Linked DNA regions of Homo sapiens: region 2 is linked to region 1. Evidence: fine-mapped expression QTL. Tissue or cell type: iPS cells. Region 1 holds a variant in brackets; the other region holds the start of a gene. All regions are shown on one strand. Distances are between the middles of the regions.

Evidence for each region. PIP is the estimated chance that this variant, and not a neighbour inherited with it, causes the effect.
Region 2: it holds the start of BEND7, and the variant in region 1 is fine-mapped to the expression of BEND7 in iPS cells (HipSci, PIP 0.95).

The regions. Positions count from the first base shown.
Region 1 is chr10:13,351,395-13,354,076 of GRCh38, reverse strand. No RefSeq gene overlaps it. Among named protein-coding and RNA genes, the nearest start is that of SEPHS1, 4.4 kb to the right of the region's middle. The variant C/T (reference allele first, on the strand shown) is at 1,352.
Region 2 is chr10:13,527,962-13,530,643 of GRCh38, reverse strand. BEND7 (BEN domain containing 7) reads left to right here and starts at 1,630. Exons shown (of 9, transcript NM_001369863.1): 1 at 1,630-2,171. The coding sequence starts at 2,111. It overlaps BEND7-DT (BEND7 divergent transcript), which reads right to left and starts at 2,040. Exons shown (of 2, transcript XR_930674.3): 1 at 1,992-2,040; 2 at 380-624.

The DNA.
Region 1 (2,682 bases):
ATCTCGGCTCACTGCAACCTCCACCTCCTGGATTCAAACGATTCTCCTCCCTCAGCCTCCCGAGTAGCTGGGATTACAGGCGCCTGCCACTATGCCTGGCTAATTTTTGTATTTTTAGTAGAGACAGGAATTCACCATGTTGGTCAAGCGGGTCTCGAACTCCCGACCTCAGGTGATCCACCCGCCTCGGCCTCCCAAAGCGACGGGATTACAGGCGTGAGCCACCGCACCCAGCTTGCCCTGAATTATTTCTTGTGCGAGATCCAAGATTCCTCTCTTGGGGTCTGGATCAGGGCCCCTCTCCTATAACAGCTTGAATTATGATCTGACAGTTCTGTGGACCAGAAGTCTGACACAGATATCATTAAGCTAAGATCAAGCTATCAGCTAGATGTATTCTCTTCCAGAGGCTTTAAAGGAGAACCTGCTTGTCTTTTCCATATTCTAGGGGGCACCTGTTTTCCTCAGTTTGTGGCCGCTTCCTCCATCTTCAAAGCTAGCAATGTCAGTCTAATTCTTTCTCACGCTCCCATCTCTCCAGCTCTCTATTCCCTCTTCCACTTTTCAGGAGGCTTGTGATTACCTTGGATCCACCTAGATTATCCAAGATAACCACCCTATTTTAAGCTCAAATGATGAGCAAATTTTTCTTTAATTATTTTAAGAGACAGGGTCTCTGTCACCCAGGCTGGAGTGCAGTGGTACAATCATACCTCACTGTGTCCTTGAACTCCTAGGCTCCAATAATCTGCCAGCCTCAGCCTCCCGAGTAGCTGAGACTAGAGGCATGAACTACAACACTTGGCTCTGATCAGTACATTCAATTCCTGCAACTGAAATTCCTCTTTGCCTTGTAACATGACATAGTCACAGGCTCTGGGGCTTGGGACATAGACCTACTGGAGTTCGTCATTCATCTGCCTGCCCTAGGGGGTCCGTACCATTTCTCAGAGCAGCCTCAACAGGGCAGAGTCCCAGGTGCCCACGGTTGGTAGGCCACTCTAACATTCCTTCCGGCTTTCTCCTTTCTGTTTCCTCCTGTCTGCTTCATGACTTATGTTTCCTAGGATCACCTCCCAAATTAACTAACTCCCTTCTCCCTAATCCTTGTCTCCAGGTCTACTTTGGGGGAGCCCAAACTAAGACAGTGACCTTGGATAAATTACTTAATTAGTCGGAACCCTGGTTCCCATCCCCATGAAAGGAAAACCTACCGCAGGGGACTGTGGGGAGAATTCTAAAAGCAGTGCTTTAAAACACTGTGCAGTGGGGTATGTAGTGAATCCTCAACAAAGGTTAGCTATTGTTGGAGGGGTGGAAGTCAGGGTACAGGCAGGGACCAGCCTGGGAC[C/T]GGCAGAGGGCAGTCCTGTCTCTGAGACACTGACCCTGGAGGTCAGAGGAGTCTAGTGGGGCCAGGGAAGGGTGGGGGAATTACAGGGTTTCCCCTGAGGACATGAATTCTTTTCTGTAAGGTGCATCTGCTCTTGAAGGCAGCAAAGTGTGAACCAGCCCTTGGGGAGAATAATGAACATCAGGAATAACATACTCAATGATTTCTGAGGTGTCAGAAAAGCCCGGCTGGCACTGGGGGCTGACATGCCCATCATGGCAGGATCTCTAAGTTCTGAGTTTCCTCCAGCCCAGTGGAAGGACAAAGAAGGCAGGTAGAGGGGCTTAAGTTTGGACATGTGGGGGTGAACATGGTCAATGAAATGGGTTGAGGTGAGATGAGGCTGCAGAACTACCCTCAGACGGTCCAAGCTGAACAGAATGAAACGGATCCACTTCAGGAGACTGGTGGCCCCCATGAAGTTAGAGTGTGGGTGTCCTATGTAAAGAAGGGAGAGGACTCAGGGACGGGGGAGAGGGTGTTGGTGTTTAAGATTTCCAGGGTTAGCTAAGCATGGTAGTAGTCCCAGCTACTCAGGAGGCTGAGGTGGGAGGATTGCTTGAGCCCAGAAGTTTGAGACCACCTTGGGCAACATAACGAGAGCTCATCTCTAAACGAATAAAAAATGAAAGATTTCCAGGGCCGAGAAGGTTCACAGCACGGCCAAGACAATGGGTGTCTAAAGTGGAGTTAAGGTCAAGGTCATCAGATTTGCACATCCATCATCTAGCAGGTGCTATTCCTGAGAATGGACCCTCTCCATCCCCTGGGATGACAGAGCAGGGGCCACTTTTGAATGGGCATGATTCAAACCATGCAGGGGAGTGACACTTCTGGCAGCAGATGGTGGCAGTGTTGGATGGCATGAGCCCCGAATGAGAAGGGCAGGTGACAGGAAGGTGATGTCACTGGAGCTGCTTTTCTGTTTTGGGGTGAGCAGGATGTGGGGTATAGAACAGGCAGCCTCTCGTCCCTCTGGGTTTCAGAGGAAGTGGAATTCTTAGGTCAGTGTTCTTCAAAAGCATCAGAATCACCCAGGGAGCCTGGCAAAATGGGGATTCTTCACATCCCTTCCCCACCACATACACCTCCGACCTGCTGGAGTCTTTTCCCATGGCTGCCATAACAAAGGACCGCAAGCTGGGTAGTTTAAATCCCGGAGGCTGCTAGCGGGAAGCCAAGGTGTCGGCAGGGCTACGCTCCCTCTGAAAGCTCTAGGGAAGAATTCCTCCTTGCCTCTCCCAGCTTCTGATGCTGACGGCAACCTCCGCTGTAGCTTGTAGCTGCATTGC
Region 2 (2,682 bases), 180 kb before region 1:
TGGGAGGCTGAGGCAGGAAAATCGCTTGAACCCGGGAGGTGGAGGTTGCAGTAAGCTGAGATCGCACCACTGCACTCCATCCTGGGCGACAGAATGAGACTCTGTCTCAAAAAATAAAAAATAAAAAAAAATCCAAAACATCTTCAGATTTTAATGCCTGATTTTAAAGAAAGGGGTGGCAGGGAAGGAAGAAACCCAAATAGGGTAGTTGCTTTAATCACTGTTACCACTAATTTTCTGAGAGCAGCAAAGCGCGTCTAAGAACTCCAATAAATCTATACTAAATTTTATATGTCCCATACATATTTTCTGGGAAAAAGGGCCCTTGAGCTTTGAACACAATCTCAAAGGAAACAGTGACTAAAAAAGGTTAAGAACCTCTTGTTGAAGGGTTTGCTTTATTGAACGGAAGAAACAGTTCTCCCTCTCCCCTCCACGCTAGGTATAACCAGCCTTCCGGATGTGCCGCCTTTGGTATCACCCAAGATCTCGGGATGGGTACCCATCCCTGCCTCCACTGCCTGGTTTGCTGGTTACCCTGCTCTTTGGTTCTGTTTCTCCATGTGTGTTTCTGCAAGCTGCCTCAATGTCCCCCTTCCTCGGCAGTTGTCCTACTCTGTGTCCCTGAAATAAGAGCGGTTCCTCAGCGGCTGCCTCATTTGGGTGAGACCCACGTGACACTCATCACATTTGTCAACCTCCCCTTTTTCCTCTCTACTCTTTTGGGGCCACTGGCCTTTGTCCCGTGCCGGAGAGGTAGCCCCCCCATCCCCCGACTCTTTACCCTCTTCCTGGTTGGGTTTGGCAGATACTTTCACGCATGTCCCGTCATGTTCCTGTCCTACCATTCCCAGGTAGTGTGAAATTCTTTTCCTGGCCCACTCGAAAGATGTGAGAAAGAAATGGTGCCTGAAGTGCGCTCTCTGATCCCCCGAAAAGAATATTACACATAACTACTAAGCGCTTTGTGTTTGGGTCCATGATTCCGACATATGACGTGGAGAAGCATAGTGCCCTGCACCTGCCTTGACCATGGCCTCCTGAGAGTCCCCAGGGCCACCAAGCCCCCCATTCCAAGTGCTCTCCTTGAATGTGACTCGGCTCTTTCCACAATCCGCCCAGCCTGGGTTAGGGAATGGGAGCTCTCTACTATATTCTTCTCCACAATATTCTAAAACCTCCTCTCTGTCCTTCTAGAGAGAGCGCAAATGGGTAAGTTTTTTCCCCCTAAAACTTGCTTAAAATCAGCGCGTCGGGCCCCGGGGCGCCCGGGATGTGAGGGCGGGGAGGTGGTTGTCGGGGCGGTCCGCGCCCCCACGGCGAGGTGCACGGAGTTAGCTCGGCCCAGCAAGCGGCGGAGGGAGGCCAGCGAGCGGGGTCTGCGAGCGGAGGCCCGGGCGGCGGCGTCGTCCCCGGGGGCAGGCAGGCCGGCCGGGCCCGGGCCAGGGCGCTGCGCCGCGGCCTCCGCGCCTCCTCGGGGCGCCGCGCGGCCAGGCCGGCGGCGGCCCCCGGGGATGGCGGCGGCCGGGCTCCGCCAGCAGGTGGCCCTGGGGTCCCAGCGGCACCGCCCCCTCCGCCGGCGCCCCTCCTCCCGCGGGGGCGGTCAGCGCCCCGGCCGGCTCTGCACCCGCCGCCGCCCTCCCCGCAGCCCGCCCGCCGCGTCTTCGGGGCCGCCGCCGCCGCCGCCGCGACCGCAGGCTGAGCCCAGGCGGGCCGGCCGCCCCGAGCCGCCCCCCGCCTCCGCCGCCGCCGCCGCGCCCCGGCCCGGCCCGCTCCCAACGGAAAGTTGGGCTGCGGCGGGCGGCGTCTGGAACCCGCGGGCCGGCATGAGCGGGGGCCGCGGGGGCGCCTAGGGCACCGGGAGGCGGCGCCGCGCGGGGGCAACTTCGCCCGGGAGCCCACGCCGCCGGGCCCCGCGCCTGCAGCCCCGAGCCGGCTCGCGGTGGTTCCTCCCGTCCCGCGGCCTCCCCTCGCCGACTCCAGGCGCGGACCTTGGTCCCGGCGGCTCCGCCGCGGTGACACGAGCCCGCGCCGCCGCTGCCGCTGCCGCCGCTGCCGCTGCCGCCGCTGCCGCCGCCTCCTCAGCCCCCGCCGCCGCCTTCCCCGCACCATGGAGTTCTCCGAGAGGAAAAGAAGCAGGAAATCCCAGAGCTTCAAACTGGTGAGCCGAGGTAAGCGGCCGCCGGGGCGGCGGGGGCAGGCAGCGGGCGCCGCGCCCTCGGCCGCCCGCGGGGGTCCACGCTGGGGGGCGCGCCCTCCCGGAGCCCCCGGTCCTTCCCGGTCCCCCGGTGCCTCCGCCGGGCTGGCAGGCAGGGCCGCGGCCGCACACGCCGGGCGGCGGGGAAAGTTGTGCGGGGGGAGCAGGGATGTTATTTAACGTAAACAAGTCGGAGGGCAGCTCAGGAAATTAGCAAACAATGACACCGGGGGGCCCGAGCCCTCCTCGGGGCGCCTCCGGGGCAGGGCTGGGGCGGCCGCGGACCTGCCTGGCCATCAGGCCGAGCGTGGACCCTCGGACCTGAGATTTGCTGTTTTTGTTTTCTGGGGTCTTCCCCCTTCCCCCCGCCAAGAGAAGGAGGAAAAAGGATGACCGTTGTTGTTCTTTTTAAGAAGGAGAAAGAAGCTCACGCCGTGTCCAAGCCCAAGGCGGAATTGTTGACATCCAACATCTCTAGCTAGCTG